4 linked regions of the Homo sapiens genome follow. The protein of the gene in region 1 purifies or fractionates together with the protein of each later gene. This does not show direct contact. Each region holds a gene or a part of one and is shown in the gene's direction. Other genes may lie near its edges.

The links. Proteins that work in one complex are often made in the same cells at the same time.
Region 2: the proteins of SLC37A3 (region 1) and SLC25A30 purify together in Homo sapiens (affinity purification with mass spectrometry; 2 studies listed by BioGRID and IntAct, with this or other methods). This does not show direct contact.
Region 3: the proteins of SLC37A3 (region 1) and DAAM1 purify together in Homo sapiens (affinity purification with mass spectrometry; 3 studies listed by BioGRID and IntAct, with this or other methods). This does not show direct contact.
Region 4: the proteins of SLC37A3 (region 1) and CSNK1G3 purify together in Homo sapiens (affinity purification with mass spectrometry; 2 studies listed by BioGRID and IntAct, with this or other methods). This does not show direct contact.

The regions. Positions count from the first base shown.
Region 1 is NC_000007.14:140,395,731-140,400,009, reverse strand, and holds the start of SLC37A3 (sugar phosphate exchanger 3), read left to right. Parts: upstream 1-1,479; 5' UTR 1,480-1,594; intron 1,595-4,279. UniProt on the Homo sapiens protein: Unlike the other SLC37 members, lacks glucose-6-phosphate antiporter activity.
Region 2 is NC_000013.11:45,397,874-45,401,373, reverse strand, and holds part of SLC25A30 (kidney mitochondrial carrier protein 1), read left to right. Parts: intron 1-166; coding exon 167-291; intron 292-2,295; coding exon 2,296-2,434; intron 2,435-3,309; coding exon of another isoform or gene 3,310-3,321; exon of another isoform or gene 3,322-3,487; intron 3,488-3,500. UniProt on the Homo sapiens protein: Antiporter that transports inorganic anions (sulfate, sulfite, thiosulfate and phosphate) and, to a lesser extent, a variety of dicarboxylates (e.g. malonate, malate and citramalate) and, even more so, aspartate.
Region 3 is NC_000014.9:59,187,296-59,191,466, forward strand, and holds the start of DAAM1 (disheveled-associated activator of morphogenesis 1), read left to right. Parts: upstream 1-1,371; 5' UTR 1,372-1,473; exon of another isoform or gene 1,474-1,619; intron 1,620-4,171. UniProt on the Homo sapiens protein: Binds to disheveled (Dvl) and Rho, and mediates Wnt-induced Dvl-Rho complex formation. May play a role as a scaffolding protein to recruit Rho-GDP and Rho-GEF, thereby enhancing Rho-GTP formation. Can direct nucleation and elongation of new actin filaments.
Region 4 is NC_000005.10:123,571,177-123,574,676, forward strand, and holds part of CSNK1G3 (casein kinase I isoform gamma-3), read left to right. Parts: intron 1-2,216; coding exon 2,217-2,365; intron 2,366-3,500. UniProt on the Homo sapiens protein: Serine/threonine-protein kinase. Casein kinases are operationally defined by their preferential utilization of acidic proteins such as caseins as substrates. It can phosphorylate a large number of proteins. Participates in Wnt signaling.

The DNA.
Region 1 (4,279 bases):
TTCAGACGTGAGTTAGTGCCTGTATCTTCCAGTTCCTACATGAGGGTAAGAGACTAAATTAGTGGGTATGGGCGCCTTGCTCCAATTTGTAAAACTACCTCCTGCTATAAAGATATGCGAACTTTGGCCGGCTGCGGTGGCTCACACCTGTAATGCTAGAACTTTGGGAGGCCAAGGAGGGCAGATCACGAGGTCAGGAGATCGAGACCATCCTGGCTAACACGGTGAAACCCCGTCTCTACTAAAAATACAAAAAAATTAGCCAGGCGTGGTGGCGGGCGCCTGTAGTCCCAGCTATTCGGGAGGCTGAGGCAGGAGAATCCCTTGAACCCGGGAGGCGGAGCTTGCAGTGAGCTGAGATCACGCCACTGCACTCCAGCCTGGGTAACAGAGCAAGACTCCGTCTCAAAAACAAAAAACAAACAAACAAAAAGATATGCGAAGTTTAAAAAACGAACAACAACAACAAAAAGTTATGCGAAGTTTGTTTTGCTTCTGGATAAAGCCAACATGAGTGGTCTCCCCAATTACTACTATTAAGTAAGGAGGAACTATGTTTGACAAAAGGTGTTGTCAAGTTCTGTTATTTGAAGACTAGTGATTGTTTATCTTGAGAACAGGTATGTAATGGTTGTTGTGGAGATTTTCTGGATTAAGAGAAGTTTTTTTTCTTTAAAATTCGAACAAGTGTCTGTATTTTTTCCCTTTATTTAAGAAACGGTGGCGGCGGTGGTGGTGGTGGATGGGGGGCGGCTCTCACTACCTTGCCCAGGCTGGTCTCAAACTCTTGTTCTCAAATGATGCTCCTACTTCGGCCTCCCAAAGTGTTAGGATTACAGGTGTGAGACACTTGTGTTGGATTTTTTTTTTTTGGAGGCAGGGTCTCGTTCTGTTGCCCAGGCTGGTGCAGTGGAGCAATCACAGCTGCCAGCCTCAAACTTTTGGGCTCAAGCGATCCTCGCACCTCGGTCGCCCCAGTAGCAGGGACCACAGGCACATGCCACTACTCCTGGCTAATTTTAACATTTTTTGTAGAGATGGGGTCTGGCTATGTTGCTAAGGCTGGTCTTGAACTACTGGGTTCAAGTGATCCTCCCTTCTCGACCTCCTAAAGTGTTGGATTACAGGCGTGAGCCCACTGTGCCCGGCCTGCATTTAATTAGACACCTAAAATTTAGGCCGGTCAGTAGCACACTTAGCAGCACGTTACTTTTTATAAAAACAAAGACCGAATACCGCTTTTTTGAAAAAAAAAAAAAAAAAAAAAAAAAAAGGATGCACCAGTTCTCCCCATATCATTTCTTCTCTCTACCTCTCGTCTTTTGCAGCTAACATTACTGGCCAGGTCCGCAGCAGCAGAGTTCTGTGGGCTCCCAGCCTCCGCCCTCCTCGCCCTCCTCCGCGCCGGCAGGTGAGGCCGCGTGGCGGGACTACAACTCCCAGCGTGCCCCGCGACGGGAGGGTCACGTGGGCGTCCGGAAACCCTGGTCGCACCGCCAGGGGTGAGCTGGCGGCGGGGGAGGCGGGCAGCGGAGCCAAGCTGACCCGGCGAGCGGAGCCGGGGCTGGAGAGCGGCGACCACTGCGGATCTCGGGTGCGCAAGCGGTGATGCGTGGGGCCGAAGACCTGCTGGGGCGGGGGCGGGTCCAATCCGAGGGGCTTCCCGGGTCGGGAGGGCGGTGGGGAGATGTAGGTGGCGGCCCCCCTTGGGTGGGGCGCCCAGGCAGGGTCGGCCGCTCGCCCCCTCCTTCTCCTCCCTGGGCCCGGGCCTGGGGTCCCGGCCGTCACGGGGAGGCTGCGATGGGGTGGATGGGGAGGAGAAGGACCCCCGGGGGACCCTGCGGCCCGGCCCCGATCCATGCGGCAGAGGCTTTTGTGCTCCTCGCCCGCCTGTCCTCCGGCCGTGGGTCTGGGAGATTCTGACTTGATCAGAAAAGGGCTTGTCGTTCGGACCAGGGGAGAGGGGATGCTTTTCAGGTAGGTGGGGAAGGAAGCTCTTTGGAAAGGATGTATAGAGGTCAGAGAAGAAGCGTGGTCTCAGTGAGTGACTGGTTTTGTTTTCTGGTAACTAGCATGAACTCAGTCAAGGAATTTGGTCAAATTATTCGTCATTCCCTCCTTATTCTTCGCAGGGTGTGTTCTGTTTATTCTCAGTTTTGACAGGAGATAATGGGAATGTGTCCCCGGAGTTTTTAGTGTTTTTTTGAAATGTAAGATGGTAGGCTATCTCGTGGTAACTCTTACTGAAAAGTTTATAGTTTATAGGGAGGAGTGGTTCCTGGGGTGAGCAAAATCATTCAGTTGTTATCTTTTTGTCCACCGGTTTATTTCTACCTTTACACAAATTTATACATACATAAATATATATAACAGTTGTTGAAGGGAATGTCTTCAGTGCTTTGGTGCTTAAATGATTTCTTTTCAGTTTGTTTGATGTTTCTTGGATACTAGGCTCTATACTAAGAACTCCATATAAATTATCTCATTTAATTAATACATGAGGAAATTGAGCTTCGGGTTGGGCGCGGTGTCTCATGCCTGTAATCCCAGCACTTTGGGAGGCCGAGGCCTGTGGATTCCTTGAGGTCAGGAGTTCAAGACCAGCCTGGCCAACATGGTGAAACCCCGTCTCTACTAAAAATACAAAGATTAGCTGGGCGTCGTGGCGCATGCCTGTAATCCCAGCTACTCGGGAGGCTGAGGCAGGAGAATCGCTTGAACCTGGGAGGCGGAGGTTGCAGTGAGCCGAGATCACACCACTGCACTCCAGCCTGGGTGACAGAGCCAGACTCTGTCTTTTTTTTTTTTGAGACTGAGTTTTTGTTCTTGTCGCCCAGGCTGGAGTGCCGTGGCACCATCTCGGCTCACTGCAACCTCCGCCTCCCGGGTTCAAGTGATTCTCCTGCCTCAGCCTCCCGAGTAGCTGGGACTACAGGCGCCCGCCACCACGCCAGGCTAATTTTTGGATTTTTAGTAGGGACGGGGTTTCACCATATTGGCCATGATGATCTGGATCTCCTGACCTCGTGGTCCGCCTGCCTTGGCCTCCCAAAGCGCTGTAATTACAGGCGTGAGCCACTGCGCCCGGCCTCAGACTCTGTCAAAAAAAAAAAAACAAAAAAAAAAACAGAAATTGAGATTCAGAGAAGCTACTTTTAAGTGGAGGGTCTTAGATTCCATACCTGGCTTGTCTCTTGAATGACACCATTCTTCTATTAGTGTTTGATTTCGAGTCTCTGCCTAAGAAGGTGACCCGGAAACAATACTTTTATAAAAGTTAAGTCAACAGTATCTTGCTGCTTTCTAGCTGTCAGGATCAACTGCCTTGTTCATTGTTTAAGGTTCTGATTTGTGCTCTGTTCATCAGTGTTAATGTCATGTCACTGCAGTGACCATTAACTTGATTATAAATCCTTTGGTAGAAGAGGGAAAGATTTTTATCTTGAAAACTAGTTGTCTTTGGAACATGTCCAAAAACAGGGAGGAAGAATGTGGTTTTGGAAACCCTGGAATAAAATGAGAGATATTTACAGATAAATGCCAAGTATTTTATGCCTGTGGTAATGAGATAATTTAAGAAGAGATAAAAATTACAGGAAGACGGATGAATTAATGAATAAAAAGGATTTATGAGGTTCAAGTAAATGGCTTCGTATGAGATAATGTGGGATAAAAAAGATACTTGTGGCTGGGTGCAGTGGCTCATGCCCATAATCCTAGGGCTTTGGGAGGCTGAGGCAGGAGGATCTATCTCTTAAGGCCAGGAATTTAAGACCAGACTGGTTAACATAGCAAGACCCTGTTTCTACAAAAACTAAGAAAATTAGCCAGGTGTGATGGTGCCCACCTGTAGTCCCAGCAACTTTGGAGGCTGAGGCAGGAGGATCGCTTAAACCTAGGAAGGAGATTGAGGCTGCAGTGAACTATGATCACGCCACTGCACTCCAGCCTGGGTAACAGAGTGAGACCCTGTCTCTGAAAAAAAAAAAAAGATAGTTGTATGAGTGTGAGCATTGAGACGCTAAACTGCAACATATACAATACTGTAAAAATGGTGAACTCAACTATACATTTAATAATTTCCCACATTCTTCTTTACACTTTGAAAACACATAATCTTTTTACTGTGCAGACATAAAAACTGAAGTCTGGGAGGTGAGTAATTGCCCATCTAATGCCCCTCTCCTTTGAGTGTGTAAGAGAACCACTCTTACCAGTAAGATGTTTTTTTTCCCCATCCTTGGTATATACCTCTGAGTTTAGGTGTGCTAGTTCTTTT
Region 2 (3,500 bases), on another chromosome or scaffold:
GTTCTTGCTCTGTGATCTTTTCCGCTCTGTCACTCTACATTTCTGCCTCCCCAGAGGAAAAGATAAACCTTGATCATAGTTTATGGATTAGAACCTTTGCACATTTGCAAGGCTTGTTCTACAGAGGCATATCAGAATCATTTTTATTGTTAATATTTTTACCCAGGGTGTGTCCCTTACTGCGCAGAGGGCTGCTATTGTTGTTGGTGTGGAGCTGCCGGTCTATGACATCACCAAGAAGCATCTTATTCTCTCAGGCCTGATGGGAGACACTGTGTATACCCACTTCCTGTATGTTCATGGCTTTTTTTAAAAAATTATAGAAATTCTAAAGAAAGTTTATTATAAAAGTATTATATTCTTATATTTGAAAAGTTGCAATGCAGAAGTGAAGCAGGACCAGGTAGAAGTCCTTATTCCTCTACATAGGCAGCTGTTGTTAACAGTTTGATATGTATCTTCCAGGCGTTTTCTACGTGTATGCAAATATGTCTACAAAAGTGTATTATATGAACTTTATTACACAAATAAGATCATGTTTTACATTCTTTTATTTGCTTTTTAGAATGTAACAACAGGCTGGGCACAGTAGTTCACGCCTGTAATCTTAGGACTTTGGAAGGCCGAGGCAGGAGGATCACTTGAGCCTAGGAATTCAAGACCAGCTTGGGCAACAAAATGAGGCCCCATTTCTACAAAAAATTAAAAAATTAGCTGGGCATGGTGGTGCATGGCTATGGTCCCAGCAACATGGGAGACTGAGGCAGGAGGATTGCCTGAGCTCAGGAAGGTGAGGCTGCAGTGAGCCTTGACTGGGCGACGGAACCCTAGCCTGGGCAACAGAGAAAGACCCTGTCTCTAAAATAAAATGCGATTTAACAACATATTCCAAATATCTTTGAGTGCTTACAGACTTCGTGTCAGTACTTACGGACTTTATTTATTTATTTATGTGAGACGGGGTCTCACTGTTACCCAGGCTGGAGTGCAGTGGTGTGATCTCGGCTCACTGCAACCTCTACCTCCTGGGCTCAAGTGATCCTCCTGCCTCAGCCTTCCAAGTAGCTGGGACTGCCGGCGCATGCCACCACACCCGGTTAATTTTTGTATTTTTTGTAGAGCTGAGGTTTTGCCATGTCACCCAGGCTGGTCTTGAACTCCTAGACTTAAGTGATCCACCCGCCTCAGCCTCCCAAAGTGCTGGGATTACAGGTGTCAGCCATTGCCGGCCTGGCCTTCATTTATTTTTAATAGCTGCAGATTATCACATTGTATGGATATATCATACATATATATTATCATTCATATGTGTGTGTGTGTGTGTGTGTGTGTGTGTGTGTATATATATATATATATATAATCATACATAATCCATTGGTGGGCAATGTGTGGAGACTGTTCTGATTGTCACAACCAGGGGGGAATACTACTGACATCTAGTGGGGCCAGGCCAGGGATATAGCTAGTGCTGAGGTTGAGAAACTTTGCTCTGGGTTAATTGATATAAAGTATGGTCTGTGGTAGTCTTGTGGGACTGAAAATATAGCAGAACCTAAGACCTTTGCGGGGCATTATAGTAAGGAGATCTTTTTCTTTGATATCTAGGAAATGATATAATTATGATATGGCTAGAATTACTCTGATGTCCACTTACAGGTAAATAGATGGAAAAGATCATCCTTGGAGGATTTCCTTTATGTTTTATGATCCTTTGACATTCTAGAATGTCAGGTATTCTTAGCTGTCGCTGGGATTTATCAGCTAGTATAATCGGTGCTAATATGTAAGCAGTTTATCAAGCTCTCTAGATATGGCTCTTCTTGACATGTTTCATGTTGATACATGTTAGTTCAACATAGTTTTGGGGCTGGGCATGGTGGCTCATGCCTGTAATCCCAGCACTTTGGGAGGCCGAGGTGGGCAGATCACTTGAGGTCAAGAGTCTGAGATCAGCCTGGCCAACATGGCGAAACCCCGTCTCTAATAAAAATACAAAAAAAATTAGCTGGATGTGGTAGAGTACACCTGAAATCCCAGCTACTTGGGAGGCTGAGGCAGGAGAATCGCTTGAACTTGGGAGGCAGAGGTTGCAGTGAGCCAAGGTCACACCATTGCACTCCAGCCTGGGCAACAGAGCAAGACTTCGTCTCAAAAACAAAACAAAACAAAACAAAACACGAAAACCACAAACAAGAAAACCCCATAGTTTGGGCAGAAGCTGTTTTCTGCCTTTGATGGTGGTTGTAGCTCAGTGATGGTTAACTTTTTTTTTTTTTTCCAATGGTGTCTTTATAGCTCAAGCTTCACCTGTGGTCTGGCAGGGGCCCTGGCCTCAAACCCTGTTGATGTTGTGAGGACACGTATGATGAATCAGAGAGTGCTTCGAGATGGCAGATGTTCTGGCTACACAGGAACCCTGGATTGCTTGTTACAGGTAAGAGCAGATGTCTGTCTCTGCAGGGTTGTGAATTATATATTTTTTTGATCTAAGAAGTAACTAAATTATGAAAGCTACTAAAACTAAGATGAATGATGCTTTAAAGCCCAGAGATGTACATGTGTGAGACCATTTTTGCCACACTGTGCTTAGCTTTTATAAATACAATGTTGTTTTCTTTATACCTCCATCTGCTGTGAAAGGTGAGGAAATATTTCCTGTGATTATAAAAGAACTGGGTCTCCTTCCAAAATGTACTTTCTTCCTGTTGGGTCAAACTAGTATGAATATCCCTCATTCAGACATCTCTGTTAAAGGAACACATCAATCTTACTTTAATTCTCAGTTTAAATAATTGGGCCTCCTGTTTTATGAGTGGGTGAAAGGTTTCACCTGTCTCTGCCACTAGATTGCCAGTAGTAGGATTAGGAGTCACTTTTTTTTTTTTTTTAAGGTGATATTTATTTATTTATTTTCAAGTTTTAATGTATTTTAGATTCAGGGGGTACATGTGCAGGTGTGTTACATAGGCACATGCGTAGTGGTGGAGATTGGGCTTCTAATGTACCCATTACCCAAATAGTGAGCATTACACCAGACAGATAATTTTTCAACTCTAGCCTCTCCCCTTTAGGAGTCCCCAGTGTCTGTTACTTCTATCTTTATGTCCGTGTGTACCCATTGTTTAGCTCCCACTTAAAAATGAGAACATGTGGTTTTTGATCTTCTGTTTCTGCGTTAGTTTGCTCAGGATAATGGCCTCCAGCTCCATCCATGTTGCTGCAAAGAACGTGATTTCTTTTTTATGGCTACAGGGGCCACTTTTGTGGTTCCTGTTTTCCAACATGACACTAGCACATTTTATTCTTCAGGTGTTGCCTTAATGAAGCAAAGACACTTATCGTATTCATCCACCTGACATCTTGGGAAATAGTGGTACTCTGAATGATATCTCTACCACTATTGCTTCTTTATTTGTGACCTGTTCAGGAGCCCACATGGCACGGAAGCAACAGACCGTAATTGGAATTAAATCTAATTTTTTCCTCACTCAACAGTGTTT
Region 3 (4,171 bases), on another chromosome or scaffold:
GAATGAAAGGAGAAAATAAATGATAAGAGTTCCACCAACACTTCAGTAGGGAGTTGTCTGAAATCTTAATTGTGAACCTTTTTTTCACAAGATGCACAGTCTTCTAGAGATTTTGCTAGTGGAACGGGTGTGTGAGCTGATCATTATATGGAATTGAGACACATCAAATGCCATTAAAATTTACATTTACAACTCGAGTAACTAAATGCATTGATTCTTTTCATATTAAAAGACACTTGGTATTCACTGAATAATGAAAAATGCCACGGAAAAAATTATGTATTAACAATACAACCTGCCTAAAGGGTCAGAATTCTGCTACACACCTTTTGCTTACCTTTAAATAAATATTTAGGTGTGTTAAGAGCAGGGCAATTCTTGAACGGCACGATGTTGTTTGGTTTAATGTCTTTATAAAAATATTTGAAAAGGTATGGAAAATGAGGTGAGAGTGTTGTGGATTTAAAAACATGTGTATACATAGATACACAATTATTAAAACTTTAGACAAGGACGTTTTCTTCCTGGGAGTGGAGAGCCACCAGCGCGGGAAGTCTGCTGCAGGGATGAACAAAAGCATGGCTGCACGATAGTATTATCTTTGCAGCAGCAGCAGGCGCCCTGACGGAGGGTTGCGGCGACTGTCTAGTCTATCACACCGCACTTCTGGTAGTGACAACCTCCGTTATTCTGTCAGCTCAGCCGACTAAGTGGTTCCCCGCGTTCTGCCTGGTCACCTTGTCTCCGTTAAACGGGAAGCAGAAAAGAGAAAGGTGAATTGAGGGGGTACAAGGAGATTCCTCCGCCTTGGGACCGGCGTCGCCCCATCCTCTGGAAGTGTTGAGCGGGGAGAATTCGAGGACCGTATTTAACCCAGAAAACAGTAAGCCCTCTGAATTAGCTGCTACGCCTGGGGAAGGCAGAAAAGTCTTAATCGTCCCTTCCCAGCAGGGACCAAGAAAGACCAGTTAGAGCGAGCCTGGCCGGACCACGCGAGCCCCGGACCTCTCCGATCCTTCAGAGCCCGCGCCGGGCAAAGTAGAGGTCAAGTCAACACACACGACCGCAGGGCAGCCCTCCCACTCTCCCGTGCGGTCCGCAGCTCGGCTTCGGAACGACCACCGCTAACACTGCAAGGCTGTAAGGCTGGGAGGGGGCGGGTCCTGAAGGGGGCGGGAATAAGAGGCGGGGCAGAAGGGCGGAGGAGTGTGTCGGGAGATGTAGTTCCGCGAGTCCCGACAGCAAAGCTGTCCCGGCTCCGCTAATAGATTGGGACCACTACTCCCAGGAGTCTGCGCGCCCGACCGGAGCGTCCATGCGCAGTGGGAGCCACTTTGTATCCTATCAGGCGAGGAGAGGGTGATGTCACCTGCGAGTTAGTAACCTACGAGCGGCTGTGAAGGAAACTGTTTAACCGGATCCCATTGTACCCAGAGTGCAGAGCCGCCTTTCCAGCATGCAGGGGCTGCTCAGGTAAGGGGGACGCTCCTCCTTGCCCGCCGCACTCATTCATTAAGTGGCACTGCTCAGTGGTGCGGGGGTGGGCGTGCTTCCGTGGGCTGGGCGCTGGGTTCGCGGCGCGCCCTCCTGCTGCCTCCCCGGAGCTCCCGGGCCAGTAGGTAAATATTAAACCCGTCCTTCAGGTTGGGTCTGGGTGGGAACGGGACCGAGACAGCTCTCGGCTGCCTAGCTGGGGGTGGGAAAATGGCTGCAGCGCAACGCAAACCGAGGCAGCAGGGAGGAAGACGCCCCCAAGGACTGGGGTCCCTCCCTTTCTTTCTAAGGCGCCCGGCTGGCCGAGGAGCTGGCGGGGTAACACTCGCCGCCTTGCTGAAGGCTCCCCGGGGCTGGGGCCGCGGGTACTGCAGCGGCGTCCGCGAGCTCCCGGCCCGGCGGCTCCGAGAGGGAGAACCCCGAGGCAGGCTTGGTGGACACGGCGGTGGCGACAGGGAAGGAGGGACTCGTGTACCCGTTCGCGTCCGAGCAGAGCCCCCAGTGCCCCTGGCACCCTCACTTCCAGCCCCATTCGAAAGGGACGGAGCGCCTGTAATTCAGACTAAGTTGGACCTAAATGTTTCAAAACAGAGAGAAGGGAAATCGGGCGTTGCGGAGGGAGAGCAGGGTGTTGGCGGCCGGGGAGGCTGCGCCGCCTGCGGACCCGGTTGTGAGGCACCGCAGAGGGCTTTTGCCGCCCGTCCCTCTCGGGAGGGCGCATCTCAGTCTCCACGGTCCCTTGGTGTAGAGCACCTGGGCTGGGGCGAAGCGCCTGCCCTGAAGCCCTGGGCCAGGAGGTGGTAGCGCGGGGGTGGAGGTGTCGGATAATCTAATGATTAGGCTCGCTGTGGGGCAGGAGGGCTGGATAATCGGGTTTACCCAGCTGGTTCTGAAAGCCAACTGCTTGTGATCGGCTTGCCCTCTGAGTGGAGACGTGCAGGAGGCCCAGAGCTCTCAGTCCTCTGGATGTTCTTTGCCTTTCCTAGTACCTTCATTTGTTCGTTTACTCATTCATCAAACCCTGCTAAGGTCTCAAGTTGTTCACGGCCTGGCTTTGCGGAGCTACCTCTCGCCCCATAACATATTTAGTGATGCCTGAACTCCATTCCCCTCTCCTTCATCTCCACTTTCTGGAGAGCATCAAGAGCAAATGCCACCGTGACCGTTTTGCTGGTAGTTTCTTGAGATTCGAGCAGGACCCAGTGAATCGAAGCGGAGTTGCCTGCAAGATGAATCCCGTTGCCATGGCGACTCCTGCCTTCGGAATCTTAGCCGCTGCCACTGCTGTTTCGATTCGATGTGGCTCTGCGGGCAGCTGGGAGGGAGTGGCTAGTGGGTGTGGTCAAACGCTCGCCCTGGCCCAGCTGCTCTCTCCTCCTCGCCCCTTTCACAGCCCCGGGACTCTCCCCTTTCTCTCCTAAATAGCTTGGACACAGTTCTAAACCCCTTTCCCTTCCCCGTGCCACACCTCATCACGCCACCTCTCTCCCTGAAACTAATTGTTTGGCGCCTTTTTCCTGAGGCAAACTCTGAAAATTATAATTTGAAAAATCTCTTCCCCCTTTCGGGCTAGCCGCATCATTTCCCCAATAAGGTAGTTTATGGTGTTGGAGGCAGCTTTGTCATGAAAGGCGCCCTCCCCTGTTGTGCATAAAGAGAGCTCTCTGGTCACCAGCAAAGGCCCTCAATTTGCTCTAGGTGCAGCTGATTGGAAGTGATTAGGGACAATTAATAACGGCTGGAAGACACTGCAGTCCCTTGTGGTTCTCATAAAATCTAAAGCCAGGCTAGAGGGCGCAGGTCCTTGAGGGTGAAGCATGCAGGGCCATAACCAGGAGCCTTGGGTCCTACTCTGGCTCTGTCAGTCACTGGCTACTCCACGTTGGGATTAACCCTTTACCTCTGGGAACCTCAGTCTTCTCTTTGGTAATGTGAGGAAAGGGTAGAGAGGGTTTCCTAACGTTAATTCTAGGCGCAATGGCCTATGATTCCAAGATAGACTTGGTCATTGTCCTTTTTCGTCCCCGACCCCAAAGTAATCTGAAGTTAAGGGTTTAAACTTGGCTTCTGATACTGTGCCGTCAGGTTATATGGACAAGGCAGCTATGTGACTATTTATAATACTGTTTATACTACCACTACTATTATTCCAGTATCTGGACCCTTCTAATTATACTTTAGTATTATAACTAATTGTTTAGGTTTTGCCTTTTTATAGATTCCTAATGAATGCAGTTATTTGTAATTGCATTAAGTGTAATTGACATATAAATATTTTGTTTCCCCTCTGCTTGCATTTTATACCAATGTGCATTATCACAGATGTTGCAATTATGGGGGAAAGTGTGTATATGAGAGTGTCTGTGCATGTGTATCCATAGTCAGGTAAATGCTTGGGATTGCTGTGTGCTTGGTGGTTGACACTTACGATCTTATTTTAAGTAGGTAGCTACATCCCCATGAGGAAACAGGATCAGAAGTTGTCACTTTTTTCCTGGAACTTACCATTAAATGAAAATTTCCTTCATTCTTCTGCTTGTCTACCCTACTAGATTATAAGCTCCTTGAGGGCAGTGTCTTTGTTTTGTCCTTTTCTGTCCCCCCAGCATTTAGAGCAGTTTGTTCATTTGTAGGTCTTTAATAAATATATGTTAAACGAATATTAAGTAGCAGAACT
Region 4 (3,500 bases), on another chromosome or scaffold:
TTGGGGTGTATCAGAATCTCTGTTTCTGGGGAGGGCACCATGTATGCAGTTTGAATTTGTATCCATTCCTGCTATGATTACACTATCTTTTTTTGTTTGTTTGTTTTGTTTTGTTTTGTTTTTTTGAGAAGGAGTCTTGCTCTGTCGCCCAGGCTGGAGTGCAGTGGCGCAGTCCCGGCTCACTGCAATCTCCGCCTCCTGGGTTCAAGTGATTCTCCTACCTCAGCCTCCCGAGTAGCTGGGACTACAGTGATTACACTAGCTTACATTCCCACCTGCAGATGTTCTGCTGCCTCACTCATATTCATATCTGAGAAATACTTGTCTCATCCAAATCACTAATATTATAATAGATAAGTAAACTGAGGCCCACTTGAGAGGTTGAATGACAAGCTAGCCACACAGCTGATGAATATTAGGTTAGACTAAGAATGTAGTTTTCTTGGTTTTTAGTTCAGTGTTTTCTATTCTGTCCTGCAATGATTTATATTCAAAATAATAGGGTAAATAATAATAATGTTATATTTAAAAAACGTTTTATTAAAAAGAATGAGAAGTTTTCATTAGATTTGTTTTCTCTTTCAATATACTGAAAAAAAATCACTTGGAAGTAAAACTGAGACATTTGTGGTGGAAGAAGTTCATTTTTTCATGCTAATAGATAAATGCAGTGTTAAGTGTCAAACTAAATAATAGGGAGACTTGTCTAAAAGAAAATGATAGTTATTTACGAGTGGGCATTACAATGGGAATATATGTGAGTATATTCAGGGAGGTAAAGGAAGACAAGAGTTTTTAAAGGAAAAATGAGGAGGGTCACATAAGTTGTTTTGAGAGAGTTACCCTTGGCTACAAGGATCATTAACAAGAATGGCCTCAGTCTGAAGTTGGACAGGCAGTTCCTGGGCAGATGTCCTCACAGAGTAATTTTTTGTAAAGTTGTGGTGGCTTTTGTTCCAGGTTGTGGTTTTTGCAGTCTTTTGTGGTAGTTCTTCTTATCAGGCATATATATATATATGTGTGAGAACCCTCCCTTCATCTCCTTCCCTAGCTCTGTTTGTCAGGGTTTTAATACAAGTGACTCTGTTTTGATTCTGACAACTTCCATATAAAGTAAATTGATCACTTACATTTCAGTTTATTGGGAGTCTGTTAGTTCTGAAAATAAAATACAGATGACTTCATATTTGGAGTTTGTATTATTCAGACTTCATATTTGGAGTTTGTATTATTCTATATAGCTTCATAATGAATTATTACTATCTCTTACTGGCTTAAGATGAAAGACTTTATTATCTCACAATTTCTATGGGTCAGGAATACGGGCATGGCTTTGCTGGGTCTTCTGTTTAGAGTCTTACCATGTGGAAATTAAGGTGTAAGCCTGGACTGCAATCTTACATGAGCCTCAGTGCTCTCTTCCAAGTTCACTGATTCTTGTCAGAATTCAATTCCTCATGGCAATAGAACTGTGTGGCCCTTACTTCCTCAAGGATTCCTATCTGGCATGTGGCTCCCTCCACTGCATGGTGGTTTGCTACTTTAAGGCCAGCAGGAGAGTTTCTCTGCTGTTTCCAATATCTCTGACTTCTAGACTATCTTTTTAAAGTCTCACCTGAATAGGTCAGGTCCACCAGGATTCTCTTCCTTCTGATCAACTTACAGTCAACTGATAGGAGCCTTAATTACATTTGCCGTATAAGTTAGCCTGGTCACAATAGTGAGATCCCAGGAATCATGCTCACGTTCAAAGGGAGGGGTTTATACAAGGTGTATAAGCCAGAGGATGGGAATCTTGACAGTGGTGATCTTAGCAGTATGCCTATCACATGGTTATTAAAGCCAGTAGTGACTCTCTTTTCAGTAGAACTGGAATCTCTCCTATGTGCTAAGCCTTTCTCCAGGCCATGGAAATATAAAGCTAAAAAGCCCAGCTTTTGTCCAGTAATAAGGTGGTAGAGAGAAACAATGAAGTACTGTTTATAATGTAATTCAGTCATGCAGCTGCAATAGAGGTGTATCCAGGCTACAATGTGAACATCAAAGAGAAGGTATTGGGAGGTTGGGAGGTTTGGTCAGGAAAAGTATGTATCTGGAAAAAGTGATAGTACTGCTTTAGTTCTTGAAACTATAAAATTTTAAATATCAGTTTTTAAGAGGAAAACCTTAGTATTTAAGATGATGAAATTATTAAATGAGTATTTCTTTTCCCCCAGATGGTATACCTCAAGTTTACTATTTCGGCCCTTGTGGTAAATACAATGCTATGGTGCTGGAACTGCTGGGACCTAGTTTGGAAGACTTGTTTGACTTGTGTGACAGAACATTTTCTCTTAAAACAGTTCTCATGATAGCTATACAACTGGTAAGTAAAATAAGGTATTTGAAGTTGTTTGAACAATTACATGGTTGTTGGTCACAAATTCATATTAAAAGTTTAAAGTTCTGTGATATTGTCTTACAGAGCGTTTGACGTAATACAAATGTTTCTACTTTTCATGTTGTCTTTCTGGGATCCATGTAACTTAAAATAACTGAGTCAAGTATATTTTATTTGTATAAAAACTAATAATTGCTTTAAGATCAAAATGCTCAGTTTGCAAATTAAGTTGTTGCTAGCCATTTCTTCATATAAAAGATGATTACTTCAAAAGAGAACCCTCAGAAACATAGATTTTTTTTTTTTTTTTTGAGACGGAGTCTTGCTTTGTTGTCCAGGGCGGAGAGCGGTGGCGAGATCTTGGCTCACTGCAACCTCTGCCTCCCGGGTTCAAGCAATTCTCCTGCCTCAGCCTCCCGAGTAGCTGGGACAACAGGTGCATGCCACTACGCCCGACCAATTTTTTGTATTTTTTGTAGAGACAGGGTTTCACCATGTTAGTCAGGATGGTCTCGATCTCCTGACCTTGTGATCCGCCCGCCTTGGCCTTCCAAAGTTCTGGGATTACAGGCGTGAGCCACCGTGCCGGGCCAGAAACATGGATTCTTAATTTTGGTAATAGACTTTATGACCTGGAAAAACAAGAGGCAGACTAATGAGAGAGTCTTGATAAACTACTTAGACTTCAGGGAATCCGTTGGATAACAATTAGAGAGTGATTTTAAGGCAGTTTCGAAATAAATGCCAATAGAAGTGTGCTGCAGAAGTCTTAAAATTGTTTTTATTCATTGACTCATTAATTCTACAAATTTATCCTATGGATGTTTTCATAGGTACTTAAAGCTTTATATGAAAGGATGTTTATAATAAAAAAAGGAGAAGCAACCCAAATATGCAGAAATAACAGGGTTAGTTGAATAAATTAATATCCAGAGGAAAATATGCAGCTGTTAAAAAGTGCATATTAAAGATTGTTTTATAGGCTAGGTGTGGTGGCTTGTGCCTGTAATCCCAGCACTTTGGGGAGTCTGAGGCTAGAGGATCACTTGAGCCCAGGAGTTCAAGATCAATCTGGGCAACATAGTGTGACTCTGTCTCTACAAAAATAAAAATAAAAAAA